Regions from separate parts of the Homo sapiens genome. Here region 2 is linked to region 1. Evidence: fine-mapped expression QTL. A gene starts in region 1. The other region holds a variant in brackets. All regions are shown on one strand. Distances are between the middles of the regions.

The links.
Region 2: its variant is fine-mapped to the expression of CMTM7 in monocytes (CEDAR, PIP 0.95). The same link has a PIP of 0.9 or more in B cells, CD4 T cells, monocytes after LPS and monocytes after interferon gamma.

The regions. Positions count from the first base shown.
Region 1 is chr3:32,386,564-32,394,907 of GRCh38, reverse strand. CMTM7 (CKLF like MARVEL transmembrane domain containing 7) reads right to left here and starts at 3,055. Exons shown (of 5, transcript NM_138410.4): 1 at 2,843-3,055. The coding sequence starts at 3,001.
Region 2 is chr3:32,449,507-32,457,818 of GRCh38, reverse strand. CMTM7 (CKLF like MARVEL transmembrane domain containing 7) reads right to left here. Exons shown (of 5, transcript NM_138410.4): 3 at 8,267-8,312; 4 at 5,346-5,427; 5 at 2,291-3,578. The coding sequence ends at 3,565. Among named protein-coding and RNA genes, the nearest start is that of CMTM6, 49 kb to the left of the region's middle. RefSeq lists a silencer at 1,873-1,942 and an enhancer at 3,589-4,089. The variant G/C (reference allele first, on the strand shown) is at 3,216.

The sequences.
Region 1 (8,344 bases):
CCTGGCCAACATGGTGAAACCCCATCTCTACTAAAAATACAAAAATTAGCTGGGTGTGGTGGCACGTGCCTGTAGTCCCAGCTACTCGTGAGGCTGAGACAGGAGATTTGATTGAACTCGGGAGGCAGAGGTTGCAGTGAGCTGAGATCGTTCCACTGCACTCCAGCCTGGTGACAGAGCAAGACTCCCTCTCAAGAAAGAAAGAAAAAAAAGAGTGCTTTAAAGTCAAAAGTCAAAACCTGTGACTGTGTCTCTACTCCAAAAAGGAAGACCAAAGAAACTGAATTATCATGGCCAGAGGATTATAAAAATTACACATGTATAAATGACATGTCAAGTACACACATTCACTCAGAAACTCATTTTCTAGTAATGGTGGACCCAGAAGAGGCCAAGACAAGGGAAGTCATTCTCCAGTGGAACAGCCTTTGCAATGATTTCTTAAGACAACGTGTTGGCAGATCTATTGATCAGATCATGATGAAAACATTTCATGAGAAGCTGAGGACAAAAGGGTCAACCTGTTCAGTATGAAACTGAGAAACTGATGGTCAAAATGAGAGACCCATAGAAAGAAAGCCCCAATGGGTGGCATTAATTTAGCTGCTTCTGCCCTTCCCCAATGTTAAAACTTGGCTAAACAAGCATTTTCCAGCAAAGAAGACAAATGAACCTCAAATGCCCAAGCAGAGTCTTAGAAAAGAGGAGAAGTGGGAAAATAGGGAGGAGTTAGATAAGAGGCCCAAGTAGATAGCCCTAACTAGGACTAATACAGCCATCCTGCAAGGGCAACTTTGCTCCCAGAGGGTCTGATCAAACAAGCCTGCAGCAGTGATGGGGAATCCTCCAGGGCAGGTGTAAGACTCCTCAGCATGGTTTTAAGAGGAGCACATAGAGAATAAGCAACCAGATAAAGAAATTATTCAAGTCTTTGTTCTCTTTTTTGGAACAACAGGCCCCACTCTTGCCACTTGCAAATTGGCCCAAGGACCACAGGCCAGAGGCTAGCTGAGGAGCTTAAGATGAGATGGAGATTTCTCATCTCCCAGTATCTTTATTCATCAAAATCATGGACCACATGAAGGCTTCTCATCTCCATTACCTTTTCTTTGTACCTTTTTTTTTTTTTTTTTTTGAGACAGGCCTCCCTCCGTCACGCAGACTAGTGCAGTGGCACAGTTCACTGACCTTCTCAGTTCAATCAATCCTCTCACCTCAGCCTCCCAAGTAACTGGGACTAGAGGCCCATGCCAACCACACAAGGTTTTAAAATTTTTTTTGTAGAGATGGGGTCTCGCTATGTTGCCGAGGTTTCATCTCCATTATGTTTGTGTACCAAACTCATAGACCAACAAGAAGACTTTTCATCCCACAATATCTTTGTCCAGCAAACTCAGGGGCCAAGATGGAGGCTTCTGATCCCATTCTCTGTCTACCAAACTCATCCCTTCCAATGCTCAGGTAGGATATGTCTCACCCCAGCCCATCTTTTAAGGATGGTGAGATGGGCTGGTCTCTTCTATTTGGCTGATCAAATCTCTTAGCCTGGGCCAAAAAATGCCCTGCTCAAACCCAACAATGCTCAGCACCAGATTTTTTTGTACGTTGCTGAAATGGCTCTTCCTAGTTTTTGGTCTATCTAGACACCGTTCTTAGGGAGGCAGGAACTCAGCGCCCCTTCTCTTTAGGTCTGGCCCAAGCAAGACATGAGGGCCACCTCATGCACACTCAGTGTCTGGAATGGCAGTGCTATAGATGCACAGACGTCCTGTGCCCAACCCCCTGGGGCCAGGCCACCTTAGCAGGCCCCAGCTTCTGGGTGTGTGACCTTGTCCAGCCCCACACTCCTTTCCCCACACCTCTTTTTGAAACTTACCGCTCCCCTCCCCACCGTTCTTGGTGCAAACATTACAATGGTGGAGACTCACAAACAGCCCAACCCAGTTTCAAAACACATCATACAAACGGAAAAGTTGTTTCAGATTACAAACTTTTAAAGAAGAAAAAAACGGGAGGGGAGAAAAGAAAAGAGTGGGGAACAAGAGAATCGGCCAGGCAACGTCTGCCCTGGTAGGAGGCCCTTGTGCTGAGTTGGTCACAATCCAAGCCCAGACACTCATCCTGCCTGGCTCCACGGGTGACTCCCATTCAACAGTCTGGCTCCCCTACATGAGTACCAGCCCCTGACAACAGGCCTTTCCCAACTGACCCCCTGCCCTCCAGAGCCCCCTGAGACCCGGGCCCTCCCTCGGAACTTGAGGGCGCAGGGGACCAGGACGGCCGTCTCAACGGTCCCAGTTCTTTTTCCCCACTATGGAACACAAGACCCTCTGACCTCCTCCTTCGAGCGAAACTGCACACAGAGCAGGGAAGCCCTGCCGCGCTGGGTTCGGAGGAAAGAGGAGGCCGTGGACGGGGAAGAGGTCGGGTTTCGCTCCCTCAGCGCCGCCGCCTGGGCGACTCTTCCACCCCCGGCTCGGGTTCGAAGCGGCGCGGCCCAGAGAAGAGGAAGAAAGACGAAAAGGAACTTTGCCCGTGGTTTCAGTCAGTAGGCGGGTCAGGCTTCGCAGGGGGGTGGCCGGAGAAACTTGCGACCCTGGCGACCTGGGTCCGCGGGAGCAAGGGCCGGGGCGGCTCTGGGGACTGAGCTCCAGCGCGGGGGCTGCGGCAGCAACTTTCCCGGAGGAAGCCTGCCGCGAACTTTAGCGACGCGGTGCCCCGCCCGCTGCGCGATGCTCCCTGGGCTCCGGCCGGGTCCAGACGCCCGGCGCGTCCGCTCCCGGACCCCTGCTTTCCCGGGACGCCCTGTAGAACCTCGGCCTCGCGCCCCGCGCTCACTTACCATTTGCGCCACTTTCAGCAGGGCCGCGTGGGTGCGGGGGTAGCTGAGGTCCAGCAGCCCCTCCAAGGGGCTCGCGCTGGGCTGGGCCGCGCCGGCCCCGGGTCCGAGCGCGCTGCCGCTGCTGCACGTGGTGCGGACGAGCCCGGCTCCGTGCGACATTGCGCGGCCCCAGCTCGCTGGCCGCCTCCCCGGGCAGCTGCCCAGGGGCCAGATACAGAGGGCGGGCCGGGGGCGGGCGGGGGCGGGCGCTGGCGAGGGCGGGGCGCCCGGGTCCCTGCCCCGCTGCTGGAGACGCGGAGCCGCCTCTGGCGGGATCCCTCCGGTGACTGGCCGGCCGGCGCCTTCCAGAAAGGTAGCGGCAGTCCCGGCCCTCGTAGATGCGCGGAAGTTAGACTGGAGCGAGAGGAAACCGGATGCCTTGGGTCGTGGCCTCTCCGAGGTGGGCAAGGCCCGGACCACAGCTGGTACTGAGCCTCCTGGGATTTTGTGTGGGTGCGGCTGCGGATGTGTGCTGAGAGCACTTTACTGAAGTTTAACTTACATAAAGTGTGATGCCCAGACCTTACGTGTTCAGCTCCACTAATTTTTATATATGTGTACACCTGTGTAACCGTCGCCCAGATCAACAAATAGAACGTGCCCATCACCCCAGAAAGTTCCGTGGTGGGCCTTCCTGACCTACCTTCCTTCCCTGGCCCCATCCTTATCCAGCCTCAGGCAACCACTACAGTGTATTCTGCTTTCTGTCACTGTAGGTTCATTTTGCCTGTTCTTGGACTTCATAAACTTGAAGTAATACAGAATATTCTCCTTCAACATAACAAATTAGAAGATCCATCCTGTTGGGAATATAAGTAGTTCATATCAGTTCCTTCCTTTTTATTGCTGAGTAGTACTCCACTGTGCAAAGATACCGTATTTTTTAAACGTTTACCCAGTTGATGGACACCAAGCTTGCTTCCTTCCTACCTGCTTGCCTGCCTCCTTCCCTCCTTCCGGCCTTTCCCCCCTCCCTCATCTCTTTTCTGGCTATAGTCACTATTATGGTACACGTTTTTTTGGTGGATACAAACTCTCATTTCTCTGGGACAAATATCTGCAAGTGAACGCACTGGTTACAAGGGGAGCATATGTTTGCTTCTGTTAGAAGCTGTCAGCCTGGGGAACATGGCCAGACCTCATTTCTACAAAAAACAAAAAATAAAAATAAATTAGCTGGGCCGGGCGCGGTGGCTCACGCCTGTAATTCCAGCACTTTGGGAGGCCGAGGCGGGCGGATCACGAGGTCAGGAGATCGAGACCATTCTGGCTAACACGGTGAAACCCCGTCTCTACTAAAAATACAAAAAATTAGCTGGGCGTGGTGGCGGGCGCCTGCAGTCACAGCTACTCGGGATGCTGAGAATGGCGTGAACCCGGGAGGCGGAGCTTGCAGTGAGCAGAGCTTGCGCCACTGCATTCGAGCCTGGGCGACAGAGCGAGACTCTGTCTCAAAATAAAAATAAAAATAAAAATAAATAAATAAATAAATTAGCTGGGTGCAGTGGCACATGCCTGTTCAGGAGGCTGAGTCTGGAGGAGCCTTGGAGCCCAGGAGGTTGAGGCTGCAGTGAGCCATGACAGTGGCATTGCACTCCAGCCTGGGCCACAGAGCAAGACCTTGTCTCAATTAAAAAAAAAAAAAAAGACAAGAAAAAGAAAAAGCTGTCAAACAGCTATCCAAGTGACATTCTATTCTGTATCCCTTTTGGGTTGTTTTAAAAATGAAGAGGCCAGGCGTGGTGGCTCACACCTATAATCCCAGCACTTTGGGAAGTCAAGGCATGAAGATCCCTGGAGGCCAGGAGTCCGAGATTGCAGTGAGCTATGATCTTGCCACCGCACTCTTGTCTGGGTGACAGAGTGAGACACTGTCTCTTAAAAAAAGAAAAAGAAAAAGAAAAGGAAAAAAACATAAAAATGAAGACAGGCCCAAACGGGACTACCAAAACGAGGTATGTTATCATGTTCCTTTTGAGCAGTGTCCCTGTGGCCATACTTACATTTATTCATTTGGAGATAACATCAAAAAATCTGGCTGGGCACGGTGGCTCATGTCTGTAATCCCAAAATCAAGCTCACAAGCCCAAGTTTGACACCAGCAAGGGCAACATGGAGAAACCCCATCTCTACAAAAAAATACAAAAATTAACTGGGCATGGTGGCACATGCCTGTAGTCCCAGCTACTCAGGAGGCTGAGGTGGGAGGATTGCTTGAGCCCGGGAGGTTGAAGCTGCAGTGAGTCATGATTACAACACTGTACTCCAGGCTGGGTGACAGAGCAAGACCCTGCCTCAAGAACAAAACAAAGCAAAGTGAAACATAAAACTATCTTTGTGAGTTTATTCCCTGCCAGTGCTGTCTTGTCATCAGAAGAGTTTTCGATGTGGCAAAGTCCTAATAATTCTTGTTGGTGGATGATACCCATGCAATATCTGTTTTGGCAAGTCTCTTAGGTGATTCTGATGCACACTCAAATTTGAGAACCACTGTCATTGCCAGAGTCCACTGCAGTTGAAACATTTGGGGATTTATTACACTATTTATTTCACCTTTATGTACATTTGACAATTTTCATGACCAAGAAAAATTGCCTTCCACGTGTGTCTTCTCTGTAGACAACAGTCACAGCTGCCTGGTACCTCCATTTGTTTCTCTGTAATTCAGGAATAATTGCATCTAGGGGCTGCTGTGACAATGTGATAGATATGCAGGTGTGCTGTGACATTTCTGGCTCTATACCCACAGGCATGAAGTTAGTACTGTGTATCATTTTTTTATGTAGATGTACATTTCACTTCTGTACTTGTCTAAGGCTTCAGGACCCACAGTGGAGATAACAGGGCATCTTTGTTGAGATGAGGGTTTCAGGGAAGCAGAAAAACCAAGTGCTGGATCATTTCTCCTTTGAGGGGCCTTTGTCCAATTCAGCAGTCTTCTAACAGTGATTTTCAGTGTATAGCCCCCCAACCAGCAGTACCTGCGAACTTGTGAGAAATGCAGATTCTAGGGGCCCACTCTGACCTGCTGAATCAGAAACTCTAGGGGTAGGGCTCAGCAGTGTGTGTCTTAACAAGTCTTCCCAACCCCACCCTCACTCCCCACCCCCCTTCACCATCATTCTGTGATTCTGATGCATACTCAAGTTTGAGAACAACTATCTCTTCCTGAGTCTGCTCAGAAACATTGCTGGGCTTTTCTGCCTGGTGTTGACTAATGCACCACCCACCTCTAATCAGAAGTAATCACTGTGCTGGGCACTCTGTGTTAATCACTTTATTATGATCACTTAAGAGCTTGAGCAAGATGCTTGCCAGTGCAAGGGCCATTGCTGGCCTGACTTACAAGAAGAGGCTTCAGAGGCTTGCCAAGTGCACTGAGATGTCTACACTAGTGTGTTGTCTGCTAGATGTGAATAGCTGCCCCTTGGGAAAGCAAGGTCTTAGGCAAAGGGCTTCATAGCCCACTTTAAAGATGTCACACTCTAAGAGGGAACCAACCAGGTAGGTGACCTCTGAATACCTGGTGAGAAATCAAGATGTCCAAGTTCTCCTTTTCTCTACACCGAGGGATTGCAGGTGGCTTATTGACAGTTTAAAGCTTCAATTCGAGTGGTACTCTGACTATAACTCTTCTTCACCAGTGTGTTTATGATGTTATATCTGATCAGATATAATGAAAAAAGTAATAAAATTAGAGTTGACTCTGTATTAGTCACAGTGCTTTTGATGAGACAAACTAAAATCAAGCAAAAAGAAGAGTTCATTCAAGCTGGGAGCAGTGGTGCATGCCTGTAGTCCCAGCTACTCAGGAGACTGGGGTAGGAAGATTTCTTGAGCCCTGAAGTTCCAGGCCAGCCTGGGCAACATAGCAAGACCCTGTCTTTAAAAACAAAACAAAACAAAAAACAAAATAGGCTTGGCACGGTGGCTCATGCCTATAATCCCAATATTTTGGAAGGCCGAGGCAGGAGGATCATTTGAGGCCAGGATTTTGTGACCAGCCTGGGCAGCATAGTGAGACCCCCATCTCTACAAAAAATGAAAAAATTGGCCAGATGTGTAGTCCAAGCAACTTAAGAAGCTGAGCGGGGGGAAGATCACTTGAGCCCAAGAGTTCAATGTTACAGTGAGCCATAATCGTGCCACTACACTCCAGCCTGGGCAACAGAGTGAGACCTTGTCTCAAAAACAAACAAACAAACTAATAAAAAGCAAAACAAAATAATTCATTGGCTTGAGTAACTGTGATATGCAGAGGTATACACCCACTTCAGGCATGGCTGGATCCAGGTGCTCCTCAGGCACAGTCAGGACCTCCATCTCCTGGCTTCACTCTGCTCTGTGTTGGCTTTTCAGGCAGGCCCTCTCATGAGCTCTGACAGCTCAGGCTTACACAATAATCCTGCCTTCGTTATTTCAGCCTGTCTTTTCCAGTGGCTCTGGTACTGTCTTAGGCTGCCATAACAAAATATCACATACTGGGTGGCTTCTCAACAAGAATTCACTTCTCACAATTCTGGAGACTAGAAGTTCAAAATCCAGTTGCCATCAGGGCTGGTTTCTGGTGAGGCCTCTCTTCATGACTTTAGATGGCCACCTTCTTGCTGTGTCCACACATGGCCTTTTCTCTGTGTACATGGAAAGAGAGAGAGAGATCTCTGGTGTCTCTTCCTAAAGGGACACCAGTCCTATTGGATTCTGGCCCCACTCTTATGACCTCATTTAACCATATTATCTCCCCAAAGAGTCCATCTCCAAATACAGTCACACTTGGGGGTAAGGCTGCCACCTATGTATTTGGGGCAGGGAGGACACACAATTCAGTCCATAATAGGCACTATCTCTCATTAGTCCAAATATGGGTCATGGTTCCATCTTTCAACGAATTACTATGGCCAGAGGAGTGGAACATTTTTGGTGGCCAGGTCAAGTTCTACCTACCCATGAAGCTGGGGGTGGGATAGGTTCAGCCCAGTAGAACCACAGGAGCTGAGTGAGGAAGGGGTGGTTCCCAAAAGGAAAACCAGGGTGCGAGTATCAGAAAGCGGAGTGAATATTAGGCAGTGTTATGCACTGAATGTTTGTGTCCCCCCATCATTTAAAAGTTGAAGACTTAACGCCCAATGTGATGACATTTGGAGATGGGGCCTGTGGGCAATAGTTAGACTTAGGTGAGATCATGAGGGTGGGGCCCTCAGGGGGGGATTGGTGTCCTTATAAAAAAGACACCAGAGAACCTGCTGGCATTCTCTCCACCATGTGAGAATACAACGAGAAGGTAGCTTTCTGCAAGCTAGGAAGAGAGCCCTCAACAGGAACCAAATCGATCAGCACCTTGATCTTGTACTCCCCAGACTCTAGAACTCTGAGAAAATAAATTTCTGGTGTTTAAGCCACCTGGCCATGGCATTTTGTTAGGAAGTCTGAGCTATGCCAGGCAGACAAAGGCATCAGGTGTCC
Region 2 (8,312 bases), 63 kb before region 1:
GGAGGTGCTTTTTAAATTTTTTTAATCAACTTTTATTTTAAGTTCCGGGGTCCATGTGAAGGATGCACATCATAGGTAAACGTGTGCCATGGTGGTTTGCTGCACAGATTAACCCATCACCTAGGTACTAAGCCCAGCATCCATCATCCATTAGCTACTACTTCTTTTTTTTTTTTTTTTTTTTTCCTGAGATGGAGTTTTGCTCTTGTTGCCCAGGCTGGAGTGCGATGGCGCCGCAATCTCGGCTCACTGCAACCTCCGCCTCCCGGGTTCAAGTGATTCTTCTGCCTCAGCCTCCCAAGTAGCTGGGATTACAGGCATATGCCATCACGCCCAGCTAATTTTTTGTATTTAGTAGAGAAGAGGTTTCGCCATGTTGGCCAGGCTGGTCTGGAACTCCTGACCTCAGGTGATCCACCTACCTAGGCCTCGCAAAGTGCTAGGATTACGGGCATGAGCCACCGCGCCCGGCCCATTAACTACTTCTTAAAAGGAATCTTTCTTCCAATGCAGCTGTGGATCCAGTGAGAAGTAGGGTTTGCTTCAGAAACCCGCCAACTGACACCATTTCTCATCTCCTTCCCCCTTTGGTGAAATCAGCCTCAGAGTTGCACCCACTTTACAGCATCTTTGATTCCAACAGTGTCTCACAAATACTGCAATGCACACACACCACTGGGACTCGGTTATGATGCAGATGATTCTATTTTAGTTGGTCTTTGTGGGGCTGGGATCCTGCAATTCTAACCAGCTGCCAGGTGATATCCACTTTGTGGACAAGGCTTAGGAATTCCTGGCTCTCATTTCAGACCTATTGCATCTCAATTTCTTGGAGGAAGGCTGGTCGGCTTCCCCAGGCCGTGCTGCACTGTGATGAGTTAATGCCTGGGTTTAGGGGCTGGTCCTCCATGGGGCAGCTGAATGGCACTGCCCCCCGGCTTAGATATTCACTCCCTAGGGTTGAAGCTGTGTCCAGGAGGAGTGAGTCACCATAGGGAAACCAGAGGGTCTCCTTCTCCCTACTGTCAACAGCATCCTCAATTGCCAATGGAGAGCCAGCTGTGTGCAGAGGTTGCCAAGATGACTGGGGCTCAAAGGTGCTGGCCCTGCTTCTAGAACGTACCTGAGTGGCTGGGGCGCCACTGGGGCTAAAAGAACTGGAGAAGCAGAGGATCTGAAGGTCATTGTCATACTTCAAAAGTGAAAAGCCAGTGTCCCCTTCACCAGGTTAGACGAGGTTAGTGGGCCTCTGGCAGGGAGGACCCCCACGACTCAGCTCAGAGCCGGCTGCTGGGGATGCGTTCACCCACCCAGTTCCCTACAGGTGTTTCATCATGCCCTCTGTCCACCATGGGTCCCAGCGCCCGGCTGAAAACTGCCCTCAGCTTCCAATCTTGACTTTAACAAAATTTAAGGTCCAGGAAACTGAAAGTAAATTATGTTCTCCAGCTCCCTTGCACCCAGGTGATTCGATCACTTTTGCAACATTAACCTGCTCATTTCCTGTCATTCTGGTACCTCTCTGGGGATTAAGATTAGAAAGATAACGATAAGTAAGCACGCTGCTCTGTTACTGAATTCCAAGGAGGTCACAGACAGGCCAGGATGGGCTTATTCTCTCCGTTATACAAAGGGGGAACTAAGGTTCAGCAAGATGACCCGTGCCAAGTCGGGGGCTAGTCAATGGCAGAGCTGGGCTCAACCCCACGTCTGCGGCTCCCAGCCTGACTGTCTTTCCACCATCCTTAGCTCTTTGCTTAAACATTTACTCCCTGGTGCTGGAGATGTGGCCATTTAGAAGGGATGGTTTTACCAGACAGTTTTTGGGAGGTCACAGAAACCCCAGTTTCTAAAAAGGCCCTGTGGTCTCAAACAGCCACCCCTCAGCCAAGCCACTGGCTGCATGGTCCACTGCTCGCTGTCTGTGGAGGCCTCACTTGGCTCTGCGTTTTGCTTTCCTTCCTCACTGAGCAGACTCTGGCTCCTGCTACTATTCCTCCAACTGTCCTCCACCCACCTTTGCCCTCCTAGGGGGATGCTCAAATGGTCAAACCCGGATCCTCGTTGCTTGGCGAGGCCTGCATTGTCACTACACAGGCAGGGGGCTCCCAGACCCAATGCCTCACCTGGACCGTGCCCTCCTCAGCTGAGACTCCTCCATTCCATTGCCCTGGAGGAGCCGACTGTGCCAGGGTCAGCTCAGCCATGTTCCCGCTCCAGCCCAGCTGGTACACAGGATCCCCTCCCATCAGCAGCACTCGGCTCCAGATACACCACGGGTGCTGCTTCCTTAGATCATCCCAGACAGAACCCGATGCCCCGAGCTGGCCAGCAGCCACAAGAGTAGCCCCAGAGCTCCAGCTCAAAGCCCACAGGGGCTGCTTCCATTTCCGGCAACACTCAGCAGAGGCAAGGATGGGGCTGGGAGTCAGGCAGACCTAGATCCTGAGCCCAGCTCCTCACTGGCTTGCCCTGTGCCTGGGGATGGAGCCCCGATTTCATTTCTAAAAATGTGGTCCTATAACCTGCCCCCTTGCAGTCACTACCATCGCTATTAGATGTGGTTGTGAATGTAGGTCCTTGCACACGGGGTTGCTCAAACATTGTTCCATCCCTCCTTTTTCTAGCCAACTGAGCAGCTCAAGATCAGCGAAACAGCACATTTAGGCCGAGATCATTAATCATCATAGTGTAAACACAACCCTTAGCTTGCTCTAAAGCTCTTTCCAAAATGAGAAGATTGGTATTGCAGGAGAAGGAGGACGTGAATATAATTGAGAACCTGCACATGTTTACCTAAAACTCTGCCCTGCTATACTATCCCCCAAGATGGAGAGAAAACCTGAAGTCCAGCAGTTCAGCAAGGGGCACACACAGAGCACGGGTGGAGGGCCATGGGCCAGACACAAGCTCGAATGGAAACTGTTTCAGGCCAGGTTTTACAGCCTTCATCTGGTTCAATAAGAAATCCTTGTGCAACTGGCCGAGTCAATATTTTATTAAAAAACACACAAACACATGCACACTGGTAACAAAGGCAGAGATGGAGAGGAGACACAAGATCTCCTTGGGGACAGGCTGACCACATAGTGTTTCTACAGGCACGCCTCACTTCAGGAAAGAGGGTATCTCTAAGACCGGACTGACAAGCTAGATAAATTAGGACAGGGCTTTGTTTCTTAAGGCACTTCACTCCCCTGAGGAGTGAAGTAGAA[G/C]GGATTTAGGCGGGAGTATTCACAAACCCCTTCAGCTGTGCTAAGTGGGGTTCATCAGTACCTGAGGTGGTTCTAGAAGCAGGAAGGCAGAAAACATTTCCCTGGAGGCTGCTTTCCTTTCCCAGAATGGGAGGGATGTTCTCCCCGGAAGGCTGGAGGAAGAGTTTCCGGCTGGCTCAGGAGCTCAGGGAGCTGGCTTCCTGGGAGAGCAGGAAGAGGGTGCAGGCCTTTCCTGGTGCCCACCAGCCTGACAGGACTTTGGCACAGGAACACAGGTCCAGAGGCCTCGCCTGGAGTACACGTCCTCCTCTCTGCAAAGCTCCTGAGGGGCCTAGGGGTTGTGGCCTCATCAGACGGCTGCATCTTGGGAAGGAAATGGCAGTCAGGACAGCTTGCCAGGGATGTGGCCCACCCACAAGCCACACTCCACAGGTTTGACTCCAAGTTCTGCTCAGGGGGGCACCTGTGTCCTCCACCCAGTGCCGACTTGCACTGAGATTATTCCATTTTTTAAAAATACATTTCCAAACAAGGAAAAAACTTCGGTAGTGCAGAGGTGACTCCCATCCGCACTCCCCCGACCTCAGTCTTACTCCTCAGCAGCAACCTCCCAAGCCTTTTAGCCATTTCTTTTGGTGATTCTTCCATAATTCAAAAAACCAATTTATACCAATATTTATAGATTTATCCTGTTAGACACCACCTATTAACTTCTCTTTTCCCCTATATTCTCTACGTTTAAAAATCATTCTTTTTTTTCTTAAACAGCTTTACTGGGATATTTTAATAATTCACATACCATACAATTCTCCCATCTAAAGTGTTTTTCAGTATATTCACAGGACTGTGCAACCACAATTTTAGAGCCTTTTCATCACCTCAAAAAGAAGCCTCATCCTCATTAGCAGTCACACCTGAGTCCTCTCCCAGCAGCCCCAGGCCGCCATGGGTCTACCTTGTGTCTCTATGAATCTGCCTGCTCTAGACGATTCTTATTAGTGGAATCCTACACTACATGGGCTCAGTGTAGGATTCCATGAGTAATGCCCTCAAAGAGGAGGCAAGTTAAATAAACTGCACAGTCATGCGATGGACTTAATGCTGCAACCCACGGAGTTGCTAAGAATTCCTAATGATGTTGGGAAAATGTTTGGTCAGTGGCTAAGTAGGAGAAAAAACATATTATGAAACAGCACATGAAGTTTGATCCTTTTAATAAAAGCAACAGATATATATATTTTCAGAGAGAAAATATCGAAAGGATACTCAGTGCTACTTCTGGGTAGTGTGATGACAGATGGCTTTTTCTTATTTTATTTTATTTTTTAAGAGACGGAGTCTGACTATGTTGCTCAGATTGGTCTCAAACTCCTGGGCTCAGGTGATCCTCTTGCCTCAGCCACCTGAGTAGCTGGTACTATGGGTACACACCACTGTCCCTGGTTCAGACGGTTTCTATTAAACATATTTTTTATCTGTATTTTCTAAAAACCTACATTTTATTTTTGTCATTAGGAAACTTAAGAAAAAGCTGGCTGGGTGCGGTGGTTCATGTCTATAATCCCAGCACTTTCAGAGGCTGAGGTGGGAGGACTGCTTGAGCCCAGGAGTTTGAGACCAGCCTGGGCAACATGGTGAGACTCCAACTCTAAAAAAAAAAAAAAAAAAAAAAAAAAAAAAAAAATTGAAATTAGGCATGGTGGTGCACACCTGTAGTCCCAGGTACTCAGGAGGCTGAGGTTGGAGGATCACTTGAGCCTGGGAGGCGGAGGCTGCAGTGAGCTCTGATCGTACCACTGCACCAGCCTGGACAACAGGGCAAAACCCAATCTCAAAAAAAAAAAAAGAAAAGTAAAGAAAAAGAAAGAAAGGAAGCAAGAAAGAGAAAAAAGCTTGGCCACCCGAGGCTGAAATGTTAGGGCATCCTTGGATGTGTGGAGATGGGAATGTGAGGGGAGATTCTGGGGTCACATCTTCCCCTTTGCTGGCCCCTGTGCTCTAATACTACTTCTAAAGTCCCCTTGGAACACAGCCTTCTCAACAGCAGGGTTTGTCCCTATGGCTGAAGTCAAGAACAAGCCATCCCCCTGTTCCTGAGAGATCCTCTGTGCACAGATAACCAGAACTCACCTGTGGACTGGGTTACACACGAGATCTTATAGGACAGCCATATGCTTGCCATGCAGAGGAAGGTGGCCATGAAACCAAAGATCTGCAGTGGAGAGAGGGGAGAGGAAGTTCACAGGCCATAGGGCTAATTACTCGGGCAATCCTGTCTGCTTCTCATCTCTGTGCTTGTTCCCTTCATGTCTCTGGCCAGAAAGGAGCTTGGAGAGTCATCTAACCCAACCACCTCATCCTGGATCAGGTGCAGAGAGGAAGCCCCGCGAGGCCCAGCCACTGGCCCCAGTCCTCCAGGTTGGGCCAGGTCAGGGCTGGCAGCCAGGCCTCTCGGTCTTCACTCTTGGCAGCTTCAGTGCCTGGTCTGGGTTTACATTTACAAGCAAGCTGGGGCTAAGCCAATGGACTTTGATTATCCTGGACCAAAAGAGAAGAAAAGGATGAAATTTTAATTTGGGTTAAAAAAATCTGAACGTTCCCATGATTTGTGGTGTAGTGGCGTTGTTCGCATTTCATTTGTAATGACTTTCTGTTCCATTCTGGCTTCATAGCCGTATTAGAGCCAGAAGCCGAGGCCTTTACATCTAGGTTTACGTTTGTACATATTAAACAATATTAGACTCAACTAAGTCAAGGCAGCACCCTTTCCCTTTCTCAGGGTCATCCAGCGCTCAAGTGTGAGGAAGGCTGACCTAGCCCAGCCCCCTCACTTGTAGATGAGATTCGGGTGCTGGGAGACGAAGAGTGCCTGTGGGAGGCTCATCAAATGGTCGAGGAAGAGGCAGTAGCTTCTTCTGGAATCTCTGGGCTTTGAAGCCTGCAGCCATTTTCCTTGCTTGTGAACAACACCGGCAGCTGCAGTGGTGAAAACTTACTGACCACTTTACTACATCCCTACCAGGGTGTGAGGCCCTGTGGGTGTATTGATTCCTTTAACCCTCACAACTCTGCTGGGTGGGTGCTAGGATTACCCACCCTGCTCCTCCATTTCACAGCTAAAGAAACAGAGGTACAGGCGGTCATCTGTTTTGCCGAAGGCCACAGAGCCAGCAAGGGCCAGATATGGGATGGGAGCCCAGGGAGCCTGGCTCCAGAGTCCGCACTCTGCAGTACCGGGTGCCTAGGTGTTCTCAGACCCACACAAAGGCCTCCACTTCACTACACCGCCACTGGTGTCCAGTGAGAATGGCGCAGGGGCAGCTAAGGGTAGGATTTTCAACAAGGTTTGGTTTTCTTTTCAAGCCCAGATGCTGCTTTACATAAACAGCTGCCCCCACCAGCCCACATCCACTTCTTCCCCGGGTTTCTTTTCCTGGGCTCCTTTTGTACCAATTGTCTACAGCACATAATTAGCCTATTAGAGCCTGTCCCGGCCTCTCATTGTCTGTTCTGCACAATTAGCACGTTATATACCATCCCGGTCCCCAACTGTCTGCACTGCATAATTGAACAGTTTATTATATCGCTACAGAATGCTATTCTAGACTACAACGCCTTGTTTACTAATTGTTTCATGTGTCTTGTCTCCTAAGCTAGATGACCACTTTCTTATAAGCAGGGACCATATTTTAAAAATTTCTTCTAACTTCCTCATAGCCCAGGTTTGGTCCTAGGCACACAGACAGCATATGATGAATGTTAGCTATAGAGATTCCAGGGCTAAACAGTTATGTGCAACCTGAATTACTAAACACAGTGGGAATCTCCTCAAGTGGGCCCGGAAACACAGTGGGCACAGGTCTCCTGTGTGCCTCTTCCAGTACCCTGCACTGTAGCTGGGCAGGTGTTAAGCTTCAGGGGGCAACCATCCCTCTCTTCAGAGACAGCAGAGAGAGGGGGCAGAGAGGTGTGATGGTGGGCTGTGGGAGGGCCATGTGGAGCATCAGTGTTGGGAGGTTTGGCCACCCTCTACAGTGACCTTCTGCCCCCATGCTGACCTTCAGAGGAGAGACTCCATCCCTCAGTGGAATTCCAGGAGCCAACCCACTCCCAGGCCAAAGTCTGGAAAATTTTGGTAATATACGTAAGTGAAAGACAATGAATGTCACATACAGAGAGAGCTTTTCTTTTTCTCTTTTTCTTTTTTTAAGACACAGGGTCTCAGTACGTTGCCCAGGCCAGACCGAACTCCTGGGCACAAGCATTCCTGCCGAGTGCCTGGGACTACAGGTGCATGCTAGCTACCACATCTGGCTTGAGAGAGCTTTTCTCAAAACTCATTTTTAAAATCTTGTCTGCTCATCAGTGAAGCAAATCAGTGTTGGCCCACAGGCCACTGAACTATAAATAGTTAGCTAAATCAGAAATCAGATGACAGGAATCTATGAATCTTTAAAAAAATAGCATATACATCTGTATGTATATACATATATATGTATGTATATATCTCACAGGACTGTATTTTTGTATATTTCCATCTACTTCTATTTATGGCTATCAGATGGATCAATTTTTGCCTCTGAAAGATACAGGAGTATTATTTCCTGGCCTGAATACTGTTAAAAATCAGGAATGGCAAAGCTCAGGCTCATGGCATGTATCTCTAATTGATCACAGTACATTTCCCACTGGGCCCAAAAGAGGCTCCAGCATCTGTCTCTGCATAGTGCTGAGGCAGCCAACGAGCAAATGATCAGAGTGGGTGTGTGAATTAAAACCCGCCTGGCCCCCTGATTTCAGTAGTGCCTGTAAGAGAGAGAGGCCTGGGCTGCTGGGGTCTATGAATTTGCTGGCAGCCCTGACAATCCACCTTCTGGGACTGTACGCCTCTGCTTAAGGCTCTTTGGAGAGAGCTGATGGCTGGATCAAGGTAGGTATTGATTCTATGAAGGGAATGCCCCAGAAACCAAGCCCTTCTCTTCCCCCATCAGGAAGAAAATGAGCATTTTAAATAAGAATTCATTCCTAAAGGCTCCCCAAAACATCCTCACCGCTCCGGCTACCAGTCCGCTCTGGTTGTAACTCTTGGAAGCTGCC